Linked DNA regions of Homo sapiens. The protein of the gene in region 1 purifies or fractionates together with the protein of each later gene. This does not show direct contact. Each region holds a gene or a part of one and is shown on either strand. Other genes may lie near its edges.

What was found.
Region 2: the proteins of EIF3L (region 1) and PRRC2B purify together in Homo sapiens (affinity purification with mass spectrometry; 2 studies listed by BioGRID and IntAct, with this or other methods). This does not show direct contact.
Region 3: the proteins of EIF3L (region 1) and LARP1 fractionate together in Homo sapiens (co-fractionation; one large-scale study listed by BioGRID). This does not show direct contact.
Region 4: the proteins of EIF3L (region 1) and EIF4ENIF1 purify together in Homo sapiens (affinity purification with mass spectrometry, with the first as the bait; one large-scale study listed by BioGRID). This does not show direct contact.

What each region holds. Positions count from the first base shown.
Region 1 is NC_000022.11:37,882,920-37,887,878, reverse strand, and holds part of EIF3L (eukaryotic translation initiation factor 3 subunit L), read right to left. Parts: intron 1,115-4,959; coding exon 1,034-1,114; intron 1-1,033. UniProt on the Homo sapiens protein: Component of the eukaryotic translation initiation factor 3 (eIF-3) complex, which is required for several steps in the initiation of protein synthesis.
Region 2 is NC_000009.12:131,483,857-131,488,085, reverse strand, and holds part of PRRC2B (protein PRRC2B), read right to left. Parts: intron 3,401-4,229; coding exon 3,296-3,400; intron 3,139-3,295; coding exon 2,946-3,138; intron 2,422-2,945; exon of another isoform or gene 2,336-2,421; intron 2,002-2,335; coding exon 1,904-2,001; intron 920-1,903; coding exon 792-919; intron 231-791; coding exon 1-230.
Region 3 is NC_000005.10:154,761,148-154,765,376, reverse strand, and holds part of LARP1 (la-related protein 1), read right to left. Parts: intron 1-4,229. UniProt on the Homo sapiens protein: RNA-binding protein that regulates the translation of specific target mRNA species downstream of the mTORC1 complex, in function of growth signals and nutrient availability.
Region 4 is NC_000022.11:31,455,343-31,459,571, reverse strand, and holds part of EIF4ENIF1 (eukaryotic translation initiation factor 4E transporter), read left to right. Parts: intron 1-921; coding exon 922-1,097; intron 1,098-3,584; coding exon 3,585-3,720; intron 3,721-4,229. UniProt on the Homo sapiens protein: EIF4E-binding protein that regulates translation and stability of mRNAs in processing bodies (P-bodies). Plays a key role in P-bodies to coordinate the storage of translationally inactive mRNAs in the cytoplasm and prevent their degradation.

The DNA of each region.
Region 1 (4,959 bases):
AAGACAAGGAATGCACCAAGTATGTCAAAACAGAGCTTCCTGTCCTCCAGCCTACAGGAACTAGCCAGACCTGTCTAAGTTGGAAAACAATGCCAAACGGGGAGGGATGGGCAAGAGCAGGCAGTGAATCCACCCATATTAGGAAATACCAGGGAGGGAGAGGAGAGCTGGCCACCCGCAGAGGGAGATCTTGGAAAGAGATGCTCTGGAGAAGGCTGATGCAGCAATTCCTACAGGCCCAACCCCACTCCCCAAACCCCAAGCAGCCAGCCAGTCTAGCTTGAAAATTTAAAGGGCCAACCTCAAGCTTTCTTTTGCAGTGGCATGATCTCTGCTCACTGCAGCCTCCATCTCCCAGGTTCAAATCATTCTCCTGCCTCAGCCTTCTGCGTAGATGGGATTACAGGTGCGCACCACCACACCCAGCTAATTTTTTTAATTTTTAGTAGACATGAGGTTTCACCATGTGGCCAGGCTGGTCTTGAACTCCTGATCTCAAATTCAGCCTCCCAAAGTGCTGGGATTACAGGCATGAGCCACTGCACCTGGCCTCTTTTTCTTTTTTTTTTTTCTTGAGACAGGGTCTTGCTCGGTTGCCCAGGCTGGAGGGCAGTAGGCTTTCTTAATAACAGAAATGAAAAATTTAAAAGGCCAGGCATGGTGGCTCATGCCTGTAATCCCAACACTTTGGGAAGCTGAGACGGACTGGATCACTTGAGGCCAGGAGCTGGAGACCAGCCTGGCCAACATGGTGAAACCCCATCTCTACCATAAATACAAAAATTAGCTGGGTGTGGTGGCACACACCTGTAATTCCAGCTATGCGGGAGGCTGAGGAGGGAGACTCGCTTGAACCCAGGAGGCAGAGGTTGCAGTGAGCTAAGATCACGTCGCTGCACTCCAGCATGGGTGACAGCACAAGACTCCATCTCAAAATAAATAAAGGAATAAAAATTAAAAAAAAGTAAACTCTCGATTCAGTTCCTAAGCTCTGTCCTGAGCCAACAAACCCCTCTTCTCTCAGATCTCTCACCTCCTCAAATTTGTGGATCTGACGGATGAAGAAATCCCCATAACGCCTGGCGACCTTGGTGTCCGCGATGTGGATCATGTCCTGTGGGGGAAAGCACAGTCAGGGAAGAGCAGCCAGGTGGAGGAGCAGGGCCATCTAACCCAGGAGCCACCATGGACTTGCAAGTGATAATGATGGTGAGTGTTAGATGTAAAGGTGGGGAAAAGACCACTGGAAAAACACCACCAGTTAACAGTAACTCACTCTTTCTAGAGAGTTTTTCTTTTCTTTTTTTTTTTGAGATGGAGTTTTGCTCGTCGCCCAGGCTGGAGTGCAATGGCATGATCTCAGCTCACTGCAACCTCCGCCTCCAGGGTTCAAGCAATTCTCTTGCCTCAGCTTCCCAAGTAGCTGGGATTACAGGCTCCCGCCATCTTGCCTGGCTAATTTTTGTATTTTTAGTAGAGATGAGGTTTTACCATGTTAATCAGGCTGGTCTCAAACTCCTGACCTCAGGTGATCCACTCGCCTCAGCTTCCCAAAGTGCTGGGATTACAGGCATGAGCCAATGTGCCCGGCCTAGTTTATATATATTTTTTTTATCAATTCATTTGTACTTTTATTTTCTAGACTTTTTTTTTGTCTTTTATTTTCTAGTCTTTTTTTTTTTTTTGAGATGGAGTCTTGCTCTGTCACTCAGGCTGGAGTGCAGTGGTGCGATCTCGGCTCACTGCAAGCTCCACCTCCCGAGTTCACACCATTCTCCTGCCTCAGCCTCCCGAGTAGCTGGGACTACAGGCACCCGCCACCATGCCTGGCTAATTTTTTTTGTATGTTTTTAGTAGAGACGGGGTTTCACCATGTTAGCCAGGATGGTCTCGATCTCCTGACCTCATGATTCGCCCGTCTTGGCCTCCCAAAGTGTTGGGATTACAGGCGTGAGCCACCGTGCCCAGCCTCGTCTTTTTTATTTTGGGAATAAAGATGTTTATGCTGGCTGGGCATGGTGACTCACGCCTGTAATCCCAGCACTTTGGGAGGTTGGGAATTCAAGACCAGCCTGACCAACATGGTGAAACCCCATCTCTACTAAAAATTAGCTGGGCGTAGTGGCGGGCACCTGTAATCCCAGGAGGGAGAGGTTGCAGTGAGCCGAGACTGCGTCACTGCACTCCAGCTTGGGTGACAAAGTGAGACTCCATCTCAAAAAAAAAAAAAAAAAAAAGTTTATGCTCCTACACTGTTGATAAAATTGCAAATTAGTCCAATCTTTAAGTTTTGTTTTTAGCTGAAAATATTTTGAACACCATTTTACTTTAAAATTTTCTATATCCCCTAGGTTAAGATCTAAGAACGTTCTAAATCTCTGATAGGATTTCTTTCAAGTTAAGAATGAAGAGTCAAAAAGGAAAAAAAAAAGAAGCACTTTGCCAAAGACAAACCTGAACCAGCAACAGAGGAATAACAGTAAAACATGCAATTAAATAATAATCAAATAGCCAATTCTTAGGAGAAATGTTTTGTTAAACTACCCAGATTAGTTGAGAATAGCTAGGCTGGTAATTAAGAGGTGACAGAGGAATGCAGGAGGCTACTATAATTGCCAAAGAACGTATATATGTCAGGTATTGAGAAAAAACTAGGCCAGGCATGGTGGCTCACACCTGCAATCCCAGCACTTTGGGAGGCAGAGGTGGGCAGACTACCCGAGCCCAAGAGTTTGTATTTGAGACCAGGCTGGGCAACATGGTAAAACCCCATCTCTACAAAAAATACAAAAATTAGCAAGATGTGGTGGTGCAGTCCTGTAGTCCCAGCTACTTGAGAAGCTGAGATAGGAGGATCACCTGAGCCCCCGGGAGTTGAGGCTGCAGTGAGCTGTGATTTTGCCACTGCACTCCAGCCTGGACAACTGGAGGATTAAGATGCTATCTTAAAAAAAAAAAAAAAAAAAAAAAAAAAAAAGGCTTGACATGATCCTGGCAAGGGAGAAAGTTTTCTTTATTTTTATTTATTTATATATTTATTTATTTTTAGAGGCAGGGTCTCACTTTGTTACCCAGGCTGCACTGCAGTGGTAAGATCTTAGGTCACTGCAGCCTCAAACGCCTGGGCTCAAGCCATCCTCCTGCCTCAGCGTCCTAAGGCAGGGGCTATAAGGGACTCTCTCCCATAGCTGGGACTACAAGTACACGCTACGAAGCCTGGCTCAGTTTTCTTTGATTTATAAAAGCATGATTTAAAACACTGGAAAACTTCCACTACTGACGTGTTATTACTTTTGGCAAATCTGTTTGTATCGGGCTAGCTAACTTATGGCAAAAACCAAGTCTTCCAGAAGCCATAAAAATGAAATGAGAGTATTTATTTTAAAGCAAAATGAACTTTCAAAAACAAACTACCCAAACTGACCTAGAAATTCCACAACTAGATATATATCTGAAAATTAAAAACATATGTTCACACAATAACTTCTAGATGAATATTCACAGCAGCACTATTCATAAGCCAAAAAGTGAAAAAAGGAACAAAAAACCCCCAAAAACCAAAAACCCCAAATGTGCAACAACAAATGGATAAACAAAATGCAGTACATTAATACATGGGATATTATTCAGCTATAAAAGGAATGTACTGACACATGCTATAATATGGATGAAACTTGAAGACATGCTCAGTGAAAGGACCCAAACACAAAAGTCCATATATTACATGATTCCATTTATCTGAAATGTCAAATGCAGAGAGACCAAAGCAGATTAGGGGTTTGCTAGGGGATGGCAGAAAGGGGGAACTGGGGAACTGCGAGTGACTGCTAGTGGGTAGGGAGTTTCTTTTTGGGGGGACAGAAATGTTTTGGAATTAGACAGTGGAGATGGTTGCAAAACACTGTGAACATACTAATAACCACTGAATTCTTCATTCATTCATTCATTCATTCTATTTATTTATGGAGACAGGGTCTCACTCTGTCACTCAGGCTGGAGTGCAGTGGCATGATCTTGGCTCACTGCAACCTCCACCTCCTAGGCTAAAGCGATTCTTGTGCCTCAGCCTCCCAAGTAGCTGGTATTACAGGCATGCGCCCCCACACTCAGCTAATTTGTGTATTTTTAGTACAGATGGGGTTTCACCATGTTGGCCAGGCTGGTCTTGAACTCCTGGTCTCAAGTGATCTGCCAGCCTTGGCCTCCCAAAGTGCTGGGATTATAGGTGTAAAGCATCACACCTGGCCAAATTGCACATTTTAAAATGGTGAAGTTTATATCCTGCAATTTTTTTTTTTGAGATGGAGTCTCGCTCTGTCGCCCAGGCTGGAGTGCAGTGGCGCGAGCTCTGCTTACTGCAAGCTCCGCCTCCCGGGTTCACACCATTCTCCTGCCTCAGCCTCCCGAGTAGCTGGGACCACAGGCGCCCACCACCATGCCCGGTTAATTTTTTGTATTTTTAGTAGAGACAGGGTTTCACCGTGTTAGCCAGGATGGTCTTGATCTCCTGACCTCGTGATCTGCCTGCCTCAGCCTCCCAAAGTGCTGGGATCATGCAAGTTTTTTTTTTTTTTTTTTTTTTGAGACGGAGTTTCACTCTTGTTGCCCAGGCTGGAGTGCAATGGCACGATCTTGGCTCACTGCAACCTCCACCTCCCGGGTTCAAGCAATTCTCCTGCCTCAGCCTCCGGAGTAGCTGAGATTACAGGCATGCGCTGCCACGTCTGGCTAATTTTGTATTTTTAGTAGAGATGGGGTTTCTTCATGTTGGTCAGGCTGGTCTTGATCTCCTGACCTCAAGTGATCCGCCCACCTTCGCCTCTCAAAGTGTTGGGATTACAGGCGTGAGCCACCATGCCCAGCCTTTTTTTATTTTTTTGAAGTGGAGTCTCGCTCTGTTGCCCAGGCTGGAGTGCAGTGGTGCAATCTTGGCTTACTGCAACCTCCGCCTCCTAGGTT
Region 2 (4,229 bases), on another chromosome or scaffold:
GGGAGTCCAACATCTGGGAGGCACCCAGGCCAGCAGCCTGGCTGAGCTGGCCCTCGTAGACCAGGGCTTGGTTCCCGCTCATGGGCTGGTAGGGTGAGCCAGACTGCGGCTTCACCATCTCCAAGGGCTGCATGCCTGGGAACGCCGAGTATGGAGGCTTCAAGGCTGTGCCCCCAGAGAGGATCATGGTGCTGGGCGGTGACAGGCTGGGGTGCATGTACACCTGAGATCTGCAAAAGCCAGACAGATGGTCGGGATCAGGTGGATGAGTCCAGCTGCGGATCTGGTCCCACCCTTCAGAGATCCCCGGAGAGCTTGCTAAACCACAGATCCCCGGCCCCACCCCCAGAGCGCGACTCAGAGGGTCCAGGATGGGGCCTGAGAACAAGCTCCTAGATGGCGCTGATGCTGCTGGATTAAACAAGTGAAGACATCCAGGCTGTACGAGGCACAGGACATCAGCCACAATGACTGGCAGCCACACTGACGGAGAAGCCCGCGGTGGGGAGGAGACAGGGAGTCAAGGGGAGAGGAGGAGGAAGGAGCAAGGAAAGGAGGCAAGATGACATGGAAAAGCAAAACACGGCCCACCACATATCAGCTCGCCCCAGGCCTCTCCTAGAGCACAGTTAACAACGGACTGAAGAGTGATTCAGAGCAAACTCCCACCCCTCCCCGCCCCACTGGCCCCAAAGCAGACAAGCACCAAACAGCTGCAGGACGAAGGCTGCACACAGGGCCAAGGCCCTGGCTGTGAGCTGCCAGCTCCGCAAGCTGGTACATGAGCTCACCTGAAGGGCTGCAAGGAGCTGAAGATCTCCTGGGACTGGGACACAGGAAGCCCACCCCTCAGTCCAAGCTGAGCTTGTGCCTGCAGAGATGTGTGAAGGGAGATCGGGATCTGCTGGGCAGCGGCGGCCTGTGAACGGGAAAACGGGGTCGGGGAGGTAACCGCAAGGCCCATCCAGGTGGTTCTTCCCCTCCCACCTCCCCTGCCCCTCTCCACATGGCTGCTGGAACACTGCCCAAAATTCAAATGCCAGCATGTCATTCCTGGGCTTCCCTTGCTATTGGGATAAAGCCTATAATGAAAAACTGGTAGCAACCCCAAACCACAGCATATCCCTACCCTGGAATTCTACACAGCAACAAAAATGGATCCTAGCACATACGTCAACAGAGGTGAGTTCCAAAAACATAACGCTGAATTTAACAATGCACAAAAAGAAAGATACATGCAGTCTGACCCAGTTATGCAAGAACCAAAATCTTGGTAACCAAACAATACAGCAGTTAAGAACATGTTTTTAAAAAGAGGTCAGCAGAGGCCACATCCTCCATCAGCAAGCCTGCACTTGGAGCAGATTCTGCCTGGAAGTCCACTGTCGTGGCTGTGGAGGCACATGGGTCTGAGGGGCGGCTAGACCATCCCAAAGGCCCAGCACCAGCATTAGAGGGGAGACTTCCAAAAATCACCCCTTGGCAGCACAGAAAGTATGCCAGTCCTGCATAAATAACCAACGCCTGCTCATTTCTAAGACTACCTCTTTCTAATGCATCCATGCCTGGGAGTTTAGGCCTTTCTTCTCTTCATCAGAAGGATACCTGATCACCAAAGAAAATTCCATTTTAGCTAATTCCCCGGCTAGGACACAGGAGGGAGAACTTTGAGAAAGGAAAACTAAGCAGAGTCTGGAGCAGCCAACTCCACTCCTCTTCCCTGTCTCGATTATTCGCTTAACAAATGCCTCCTGGCTGCCGTGGCGGGCCAGGTGCTGGTCACCACATGTGAGGGGGATGGAAAACCAGACAGACAATGAGAAATAGATGAGCAAGCCAATTCCGCCCTGCACTGGCTCCTCCCCACCACCCCCAGCCAGGCCACCTGGCTAGCTGCTGTCACCTGTTGGTAACTCTGCTGCTGAGGTATCGTTTGAGGAACCAGCCGGGGCTGACTTGCAAACACATGGCCATCCAGGTACAGGGGCGGGAGGTGGCTGCCTGGAAACAGAGCGGCAAAAGGGACGTAGAAGAGGATCAAGCCTCACTACTTCTCAATGTCCCTGAGGGAAACAGTCTACAGGTCTGCTCTACCCAGGGGACTCAGTGGGGACGAGGGCGTGTGTACAGAGGCTGCTAGGTTCCCTGTGTGCCGGAAGCACACGCCTGCTCACAACACGCCTGGCACGCACCTCAGGGAACGTAGGGAGGGTGCAGCGTCAGACCTAGGAGGAGGGAGGAGGCAGGTGGGCTCTGGCCTACCCTTCCCACCTCCCACTCACCAACTACCCCAGACACTCGAAGGGGCATTCTACTTTAACCAGGGCTGCCTTGGTCTCTCAGTCACTGTCCTCTTCATCTCCCTGCTATTGAGTCCACAGTGGAGGGTCAGAAGGATCTATTGGAATTACATCACTGAGACTGGCAGCTGGGCCCTCAAAACCCCCACGCTTCCCCTTGGGGACACTGGCACACGATAAGGATGGCAGCAATCAGGACAAAAGTAGCTGCCAGTGACTGAGGGCTCTGTTGATACAAAGCCCTTTCCAGGTAAGACCTGGCCTCACGGGTGTGGCCACCCCACGGAGTTTCATGTAAGAGAGGAGAGGACACTGTGGCTCGGCAAGAGCTGCTCACCAGCCGAGGCGACACGGCTCCAGCACATGACCCAGGTCTGACTCAAAGTCAAGCCTTTGCTCGCTCCTGTCACCAGTAGGCAGGAGTGCCTCGCTGTTATCCCCCAGTTCTGTTTCCCAGCGTGGGGAAGCAGGACGTGCACATTACCTGCAGCACATGGGAGCTACGACCACTGGGCCTAAAAACAAGTTGCTACTTCTACATGCTACTTAAGACAAGGCCAGGAGGTGACATTCGGGGCTGTTAATCCGTTTTTCTTGATAATAAATGGAGAAGGACCCCAAGGCCTTGCTCAGGGGATGAGATACCTGGCATAGAAGCAGAAGGTGCTACAGAGGCCACAGGCATGGGTGGCATGGACACTCCACCGAAGGAGCTGTAGTTGACCCCGCTGGAGGCACCCACAGAGGATGGAGGCTGGATGCCTGAGCCAGCGCCGCCTGGAGAGCTCTGCTCCGGCAAACTGGGGGAGTTTTCCCAAGCCTTGCGCGCAGACTCCATCTTCAGAAGCAAGGGGAGGGGGAGGGATGAAAATTACTATCACGCTGGCAGTGGACAGAGCCAATCTAAGCTTTAGGGGTTCGGGGACTCCTCCCTTCTGCCTCTTTGTAAGCTAAGGTACTGGGTGGGCCCTCACCCAGCTCAGGGCTGGTGTTACCTTCAGAGTAAGGTCGGCGGTGGGGAAGGACATTGGGGAGAGACCGATGGCCCTCTGGATGTGATGGTCCCGCCGCAGGATGGGGATACTCTGTGTTAACCCTGCCTGGAGAGGAGGAAAAGGAAACCATGGAACACAAACAGGTGCAGAGATGGCTTTGCCCAAACCCATCCATGGCTCTCCTGAACACACTCAAGGCTCGTCCAAATGTATCTATGACTTGCCCAAACCCATCCATGGCTTTTCCCAAAAGCACCTACAGCTCCGTGTCTATGAATTGTCCAAATGCATCTTCAGTATTGGCCACATGTACCCAAGACCACCCAGATGAAACTGATGGCAGCCAGGACCATGACTGATCTCCTGGAGATGGCTGCCTCCATCAGTTTCCTCCACACAAGTCTGCAGAGAGCCACCCCCATATCCACACTCCATAGTGCCCTCCAGACAGGGAGAGCCATGTCCCGGCAGTATAAATATGGACTGGCAGCCCGCACACAAACATCTGGTTCAGAAGGCACCTGCCACCTGGCCTGGAGATGCCCTGGGCCAGACAGGGAAGGCTGTGCCCCTCAGCAAACTGAAAAAGAGGGCTCTGGTAACAGAGGCTGGAAATGCAACAGTGCCCCCGCTTCCTGCAGATCCCCGGTGTCCATCTGCATGTGACAGAGACCGCAGACTCTCGAGTAAAGAACCTCGTAGAGCCCAGCACTTCCAAAACATTGTTTTCATTCAACACCTATGAATATTGTACAGCACTCACATTCCTTGGAATCCTCTGGGAAACGCTGCCCAAATGATACTCGTTCATTCAGCATATGCACTAGCACCCACCCCTGCAGGTGGTGAGGACAGAGCAGTGAACCAGATGTCACTGCGACAGCCTCAGCTGCAGCCCCGAGTGGCCACAACAGATGCAACTGCCAGCTCCTGA
Region 3 (4,229 bases), on another chromosome or scaffold:
AGAAAAATGAAGCAGGGTAAGAGGGATGGAGAGAGGGAATCCAAGGTCAGGACTTGCTAGTCTATATAGGGTGGTCTGGGAAGGCATTTCCACCACAGTGATCTGCGGGAAGAGCACTACAGAACATAAGACCCAAAGCAAAGAGTACATGACATGTTTCAGGAAGTGAGGACTGATGCTGGAAGGGAATGAGTGAAGAAGGGGCAAGTGATGAAAGATGAGGTCAGAGGTTAGGTGGACAGAGACCAGATCAAGTGCGGTCTTAGAGAACACTCTAAGGACTCTGAATTTTACTCTGCTAAGAAGTTACCAGAGGGCTTTAAGTAGGAGTGATAGGAGACCAGTTAAGAGGCTGCTGCAAAAATCTACATGAGAAATGATGATGTATGGTCCAGGCCAGCAAGAGACGAGGCGGTACAAGCATTTAGATCTGGACATAGGTTTTTTTTGTTGTTTCTTTTTTTTTTTTTTTGTGATGGAGTCTTGCTCTGTTGCCCAGGCTGGAGAGCAGTGGCATGATCTCGGCTCACTGCAACCTCTGCCTCCCAGGTTCAAGCGATTCTTGTGCCTCAGCTTCCCAAGTAGCTGGGATTACAGGTGTGCACGATGACGCCCAGCTACTTTTTGTATTTTTGGTAGAGACTGGGTTTCACCATGTTGGCTAGGCTGGTCTCAAACTCCTGACTTCAACTGACCCTCCCGCCTCGGCCTCCCAAAGTGCTGGGATTACAGGTGTGAGCCACTACGCCCAGCCAGTTTTTTTTTTTTTTTTTTTTTTTTTGAGACATGGTCTCACTGCATTGCCTAGGCTGGAGTGCAGTGGCTCTTGCTCAATATAGCCTCGACCTCCTGGGCTCAAGCAATCCTTCCACCTCAGCCTCCAGAGTAGCTCAGACCACAGGAATGCACCACCACACCCAGTTAATTTTTTTTTAAAGAGATGGGGTCTCTCACTATGTTGCCCAGGCTGGTCTTGAACTCCTGCGCTCAAGTGATCCTCCCAAAGTGCTGGGATGACTGGTATAAGCCCCCACACCCAACCTGGATGCAGCTTTTTTTTTTTTTTTGAGATGAAGTCTTGCTCTGTCACCCAGGCTGGAGTGCAATGGTGCAATCTCAGCTCACTGCAACCTCTGCCTCCCAGGTTCAAGCGATTCTCCTGCCTCAGCCTCCCGAGTAGCTGGGGATTACAGGCGCATGCCACCACGCCCAGCTAATTTTTGTATGTTTAGTAGAGGCAGGGTTTCACTGTGTTGGCCAGGCTGGTCTTGAACTCCTGACCTCAGGTGATCCACCTGCCTCGGCCTCCCAAAGTGCTGGGATTACAGGCGTGAACCACCGCACCCAGGCAGCTTTTTCTTTTTGAGACAGTCCTGCTCTGTTGCCCAGGCTGGAGTGCAGTGACACACTCATCTTTCACTGCAGCCTTTACCTCCCAAGGCTCAAGTGATCCTCCCACCTCAGCCTCCCCAGGAGCTGGGATTACAGGCACGCACCACCATGCTCGACTAATTTTTGTACTTTTTTTTTTTTGTAAGAGATGGGGTATCCCTATGTTACCCAGACTGGTCTCAAACTTCCAGGCTCAAGCAATCTGCCCACCTTGGCCTCCCACCCAAAGTGCTGGGGTTACAGGCATGAGGCACTGTGCCCGGCCAGGACACAGTGTTTAATTGTCAAAGGATGTACTAGTACATTACATGTGGGGTCACAAAAAGACATTTACTTTTTAGAGACAGGGTCTCACTCTGTCGCCCAGGCTGGAGTACTGTGGCACAATCACAGCTCACTTGCAGCCTTGAACTCCTGGGCTCACATGATCCTACCATCTCGGTCTCCCAAAGTGCTGGGATTACAGGTGTGAGCCACTGCAACCAGCCAGAAAAAAAAAAACAGAGGTGGCAAGGATGATCTTAAGGTCTTTAGTCTGAGCAATTAGAAGGACAGAGTTGCTAAACGTCTCCTGAGTCTCACTTTCCTCATCTGTGAAGTGGGAATAAAAAGAGCATCTGCTGGGCCAGGCGCGGTGGCTAACATCTGTAATCCCAGCACTTTGGGAGGCCGAAGTGGGCAGATCACCTGAGGTCAGGAGTTCGAGACCAACCCGACCAACATGAAGAAACCCCATCTCTAGTAAAAATACAAAAAATTAGCCAGGCGTGGTGGTGCATGGCTGTAATCCCAGCTACTTGGGAGGCTGAGGCAGGAGAATCGCTTGAACCCAGGAGGCATAGGTTGCGGTGAGCTGAGATCGTGCACTGCACTCCAGCCTGGGCAACGAGAGAAACTCTTTCTCAAAAAAAGAAAAAAAAAAAAAAAAAAGCATCTGCTCAGCAGATCACTTGGGCTAGAACAGGTGAGACACTCAGTAAATGCAGTAAATGGTGACTATTCCAGTACTATTACTTATCTCTGAATTATCAAGAGCCTAAATAAATTAGTTTAAGTGAAAAGCAGAGCAAAAACCATACAGAGCCCTATCTCTATCAGATCATTTATCTAGATGGCTCCTGGCTACTGTGGGACTTAATTTCCTCTGAGAAGCTTGCAACTCCATTCTAAGGCAAAGAAAAAGGCAACTTTGAGTGGCTGGAATGTATGTCTTGAGAGTAAGGTGGTTACCACTAGTTTGGAGAATAATTACAAAGTGGCCTGTAAACAAGGCCTGTCATGGAGGAATCATCTAGGTTTACTAACAGCACATCAAACTGAGATGGAGAAGTCCCATGCCATATATGACAGATCTACCAAGCTGGCTTTACAAAATTCATCTATGAAGACCCACAATCCTCCCCTCCCCACACCTAGGGCTTTGCCAGTCTAAAGGTTCAGCCAAGAAAAAAAAGGTGCCACACTAGGACTGTCCTTGATTCTGGGAACATCCTTCAGGAAGACATCCCAGGCTATTAGCCATGTGAAGTTGGCCACTTGCCCCTGGTAACTACCACAAATAGCCCTTGTTGAAAATTCAGCTAACTCCTGATTATCCACTCAGTTCCGGAAAGGCACAGATAAACCCTCAGAGTGAGTAATTACCAATATCTGGCTTTGGAATGCAATCTTCTGAAATAAAAAAAAAAACTTACATCTTACCTCTGTGTAGGAGGTTTTTTTGGTTTTTTTGTTTTGTTTTGAGATGGAGTCTTGCTCTTGTCACCCAGGCTGGAGTGCAGTGGCACGATCTCAGCTCACTGCAACCTCCGCCTCCCCGGTTCGAGCAATTCTCCTGCCTCAGCCTCCTGAGTAGCTGGGACTACAGGCACACGCCACCATGCCTGGCTAATTTTTTTGTATTTTTAGTAGAGACGAGGTTTCACTATGCTGGCCAGATTGGTCTTAAAACTCCTGACCTCATGATCCGCCCGCCTCGGCCTTCCAAAGTGCTAGGATTACAGGTGTGAACCCCCGCGCCCAGCAGGACTTTTTCAATTCATGAACTGTACTGCCCCATACTCAACAGCAATTTGACGCTCTAAACAACCTCAGCACCGGGATTAGCCCCATTCTGTGAATAAGGAAAACAGGTTAGACAAACAATCTAAGGTCACAAAGTGAGAGCAGAGAGAAGTACCCTGCCCATGTTCTAATTTAAATCCCATCACCTTCTCCCTTCACATTGATGTGCTGTTTCCCATGTTTTCACCAGCGAGGTACCAAAACTTACTTCCTTTCTTGAATCCCAGGCAAGGTAAGGCCATCCTCTCTCCTGGCCACTCCCTTAGATCACTCTGGACCAGCCAGGGAGGTTTTTGAGTCTGGACTGAGGCACCTGCTGAACCTCCAGTGGCCCCAACACCCTAATTACTCCCTTTGAGCTGTCTTGGGTTTTGCAAACAGGGGAACTCCCATCTGCCAAGCTCTCCATCTTAAAGAGGTTTTGTAGTTTCAGGCCGGCTGCTCCTCCTCCTCCTCCCACCCTGCCCACCTCCCAGAAAAGAGAATGGGTGCTCAGTAACAGCTATTAAGATTGCTTACTCCAGTTCAGGTCCCACTATAGACAGTGGGTGGGTCAGCAGAAAGACCCCGACCCTCAGGAGGTTCAGAGTTCAAGAAAGCTTGTGACTACCCTCTACCTCCCAAAGGGCCAAAAACCACTTCCTAAAAACCTTCCCCTACCTGGCAGGCACTCACTTCCGGGTTAGTATGAAACTCAAACTACCTGTGCAAAAGGAAAGGGGCCAGGCCAGCTGAAGGCTCCCGATGAAAGCTGCCTCCCACTCTCCCCTTCA
Region 4 (4,229 bases), 6.4 Mb from region 1:
TGTGACAAGTACTCAGAGATGACATAAGGATTATAGAGAAGGTAGCAATTAATTTTACTAGGTAGGGCAAAAATGGGTAGGCAGGGCAAGCTTCCCAGAGAAGGTCACATTTGAATTTCGCCTTGAAGGATGAGCTACAACAACCAACCTGTAGGCAAGTGAAAATTGCCCTCATGCCAGGTTTCTCATAAATACCTTAGGTTGCTGAGCCCTGACTGAAAGTGGTGCTACAGGTGCATGGGCAGAAGCAGAGCTAAATTAATTTGGTTCCATTTTTAAGCAGTAAGAGACTTGCAAAGACTATCCTTTAAAAAAAAAATCACTAGAAAAAGAACTAGGCATGGTGCTGGACACAGTGGCTCACTACTGTAATCCTAGCACTTTGGGAGGCCAAGGCAGGAGGATCACTTGAGGTCAGCAGTTTAAGTCCAGGCTGTGCAATTTAGCGAGACTCAGTCTCTACAAAAAATTAAAAAATTATCCAGGCATGGTGGTGTGCACCTGTGGTCCCAGATACTCTGGAGGCTAAGGCAGGAGGATCACCTGAGCCCAGGAGGTAGAGACTACAGTGAGCTGTGATCGTGCCACTACTCTCCAGCCTGTGCAACAGAGCAAGACCCCATCTCAAAAAAAAAAAAAAAAAAAAGACCCCCCTCCACTATAGAAAATATGAAGTTCCCACGAAGGGAACCATAATCCTCCCCACATCCCATTGGTATTCTAGCTTTATTAAGGCTTTTTTCCTTTTCTGCCTCCCGTAGAAGGGGGACTGTTTTATTCTTGCAAGTACAGTACCTGCACGAGAAGTCTGCTTTTTAAGTCATGTGTGGCTCTTCTACATGTATACTGATGGCTGAAGCCACAGAGGGACACTGGAGTGATTTACTTATCAGACGGTTTTTGTCCTGGTTTTGCTTTCAGGTATAGTAGAGTGCAATGGAGGAGTGGCCGAAGAGGATGAAGTGGAGGTCATCCTTGCACAGGAGCCTGCGGCTGATCAGGAAGTGCCAAGGGATGCTGTCTTGCCTGAGCAGTCCCCAGGAGACTTTGACTTTAATGAGTTCTTTAACCTTGATAAGGTGCCATGCTTGGCTTCGGTGAGTGTAGCAGCACACTTAAAAAATGTGTGGTTAAATTTGACCTGAGTATTTAAGACATCGGTTTGAAAGTGTTGTTTTGCTAGATGCTTTTGGGGTTTTTGGCTTTTATTCTTACATATTTAAATTTTTGTTGGCTTTGTTTTGAGAGGCTTAATGGATAATATGAGATTTTTGTACCAGTTAACTCTTTTTTAAGCTGGTGGTGTTAGACTAAAAATTCTTTTTTTGTTGTTTTTTTTTTTTTGAGTTGGAATCTTACTCTGTCACCCAGGCTGAAGTGCAGTGGCACGATCTTGGCTCATTGCAACCTCCGTCTCCTGGGTTCAAGCGATTCTTCTGCCTCAGCCTCCTGAGTAGTTGGGATCACAGGTGTGTGCCACCATGCCCAGCTAATTTTTGTATTTTTAGTAGAGATGGGGTTTCACTATGTTGGCCAGACGGGTCTTGAACTCCTGACCTTGTGATCCTCCTGTCTTGGTCTCCCAAAGTGCTGGGATTACAGGCGTGAGCCACCGCACCTGGCTTTTTAAAGTTATTTTTAGAATTCCTGTTTATCACTAAGATGCTTATATTTTGGATACACTCCCCAATTTTTCACAGTGATGTATCATGCTTATCTTATATTTTAATTAATACAAAATTAGTGCACTTAAAAGTCAGCATTATTTAAGGTATGAGCATCTACAGGTGGAATGTGATTGAAATTGTCTAGATAATTCCTCTGAAAATAGAAATTCTGGAAACAATAATTAGGGTCTTGAATTAAAATCCCTTCAAAAGAAGTATATTGTGGCTTAATTTGGGTATGGATTATGAAAACATTCTTCCAGATAAGAACAAAGAATAAATCTAAGCTTCCCCTGCTTAACTTTGGAAACTGTGGGTTCCAGATTTCAAATAAAACAGTCACTAATTCTGTCATCCATGTACCAGTTTTTGAAAAAGCATGTTTTCTGTTTATCAGTGGGATTGACGTGAAAGTATATGACTTATTTTCAAGGATATGTCTGATTTTTGGATAGATGTTTGCTCTATCTTGTCTTTTCTAAATATTGATAAGAATACTGCAAAAAATCAATTTGGATATTTGACTGAATTTATGGTATGATTTGAATTGAAAAATTTTTTAAATGCTTAAATCTAGTTTTTAAGAAAGATTGGCACTATTTCATAATTTCTACCAAAGCAATTTATTGTTCATAGTGTGTTATTTAATTGTCCTTATTAAATGTAAACTATGGAGGTTGGATTTGGAAACAGAAAACACCTGAAAACTCTCTATTAATCTCAAACAGAAATTAGAGATCAGTTGAAATTTCATCTTCCACAATCATACTTTTTCTAAACTTTGACTTGGAATTACAGTCTTTATGAGCTCTGCTTTTTTAGCCTTTGGCTTCTGAAACTCTCAAGATTGAATTTCATAATGTTCATTACAACCTTGAAACCACTAAGTTTGAAGCAATGGTTTTCTTTCATCAGTTCCCCATACTTGATATTTAGTTGAAGGTCACTCATCAGCTTGTCAGTGGAATGCTGTGGCATTGACACTGTTCTCTGAGAACATTTGGTAGTACGTGGATTTACTCCTGAGGCAAAGGATAGAAACCCAAAAACCTTTTTGTAGCATAGAGGCTTTGCTTTATATTCTTAGAAAGTAGTGGTGGTTCATGCCTGTAATCCCAGCACTTTGGGAGGCCAAGGCAGGTGGATCATTTGAGGTCAGAAGTTCGAGACAAGCCTGGCCAACATGGTAAAAACCCATCTCTACTAAAAATAAAATTAAAAATAGCCAGGCATATGGTGGCGTATGCCTGTAGTCCCAGCTACTCGAGAGCCTGAGGCATAAGAATCACTTGAACCTGGGAGGCAGAGGTTGCAGTGAGCCAAGATTGCACCCCTGCACTTCAGCCTGGGCAACAGAGCGAGACTGTCTTAAAAAAATAGTAGACCGGGTGTGGTGGCTCATGCTTGTAATCCCAGCACTTTGGGAGGCCAAGGCGGGCGGATCACAAGGTCAGGAGATCGAGACCATCCTGGCTAACACGGTAAAACCCCGTCTCTACTAAAAATACAAAAAATTAGCCGGGCGTGGTGGCAGGCGCCTGTAGTCCCAGCTACTCAGGAGGCTGAGGCAGGAGAATGGTGTGAACCCGGGAGGCGGAGCTTGCAGTGAGCCGAGATCGTGCCACTGCACTCCAGCCTGGGTGACAGAGCGAGACTCTGTCTCAAAAAAAAAAAAAAAAAAGTAATAAAAAATAAAAAAGGAAAGTAAGTAGATGGTTATACTCAAGTTTGGGTTATTCAGAAATTACCCAGGATGGAGGAAGAAAAAGGTGTTCAAATTCCTAGGTTCTGAGAGTATTTATCTTCAGGTCACGAGCATGAAAGGAAGTTTCAAAGTAAGTGACCCTTTCATAAGATTTAAACCTTCTTGTCCTTTTTCATCTAGAAACTATTAGTTTTTATTGTCTTTTTCTTCAGATGATAGAAGATGTTTTGGGAGAAGGGTCAGTCTCTGCCAGTCGGTTCAGTAGGTGGTTCTCTAACCCGAGCAGATCAGGAAGCCGATCCAGCAGTCTTGGGTCAACACCACATGAAGAGCTAGAGAGACTTGCAGGTAAAATGGCTTCAGATTCTGCCCTTGAAGGTAAACCTGGGTTTTTCCCTGATATGGTTCATTTTATCTTCATTAGTCAGGAGTCAATTAGGGTCAAAGGGTCTCTGGACAACTGAAAAGCCTTCAATTTGTGTCCTTTTAATATTGTTGAAGGGGCCGGGTGCAGTGGCTCACGCCTGTAATCCCAGCACTTTGGGAGGCCAAGGCAGGCAGATCACAAGGTTAGGAGTTTGAGACCAGCCTGGCCAACATGGTGAAACCCCCATCTCTACTAAAAATACAAAAATCAGCCAGGCGTGGTGGCGGGCATCTGTAGTCCCAGCTACTCAGGAGGCTGAGGCAGGAGAATCGCTTGAAACTGGCAGGCGGAGGTTGCAGTGAGCCGAGATTGCGCCACTGCACTCCAGCCTGGGCGAAAAAGCGAAACTCCATCTCAAAGAAAAAAAAAAAAAAAAAGAAAGAAAGAAAAATACTGTCGAAGGCATGTTTCTTTACTGGAACAGATTAAT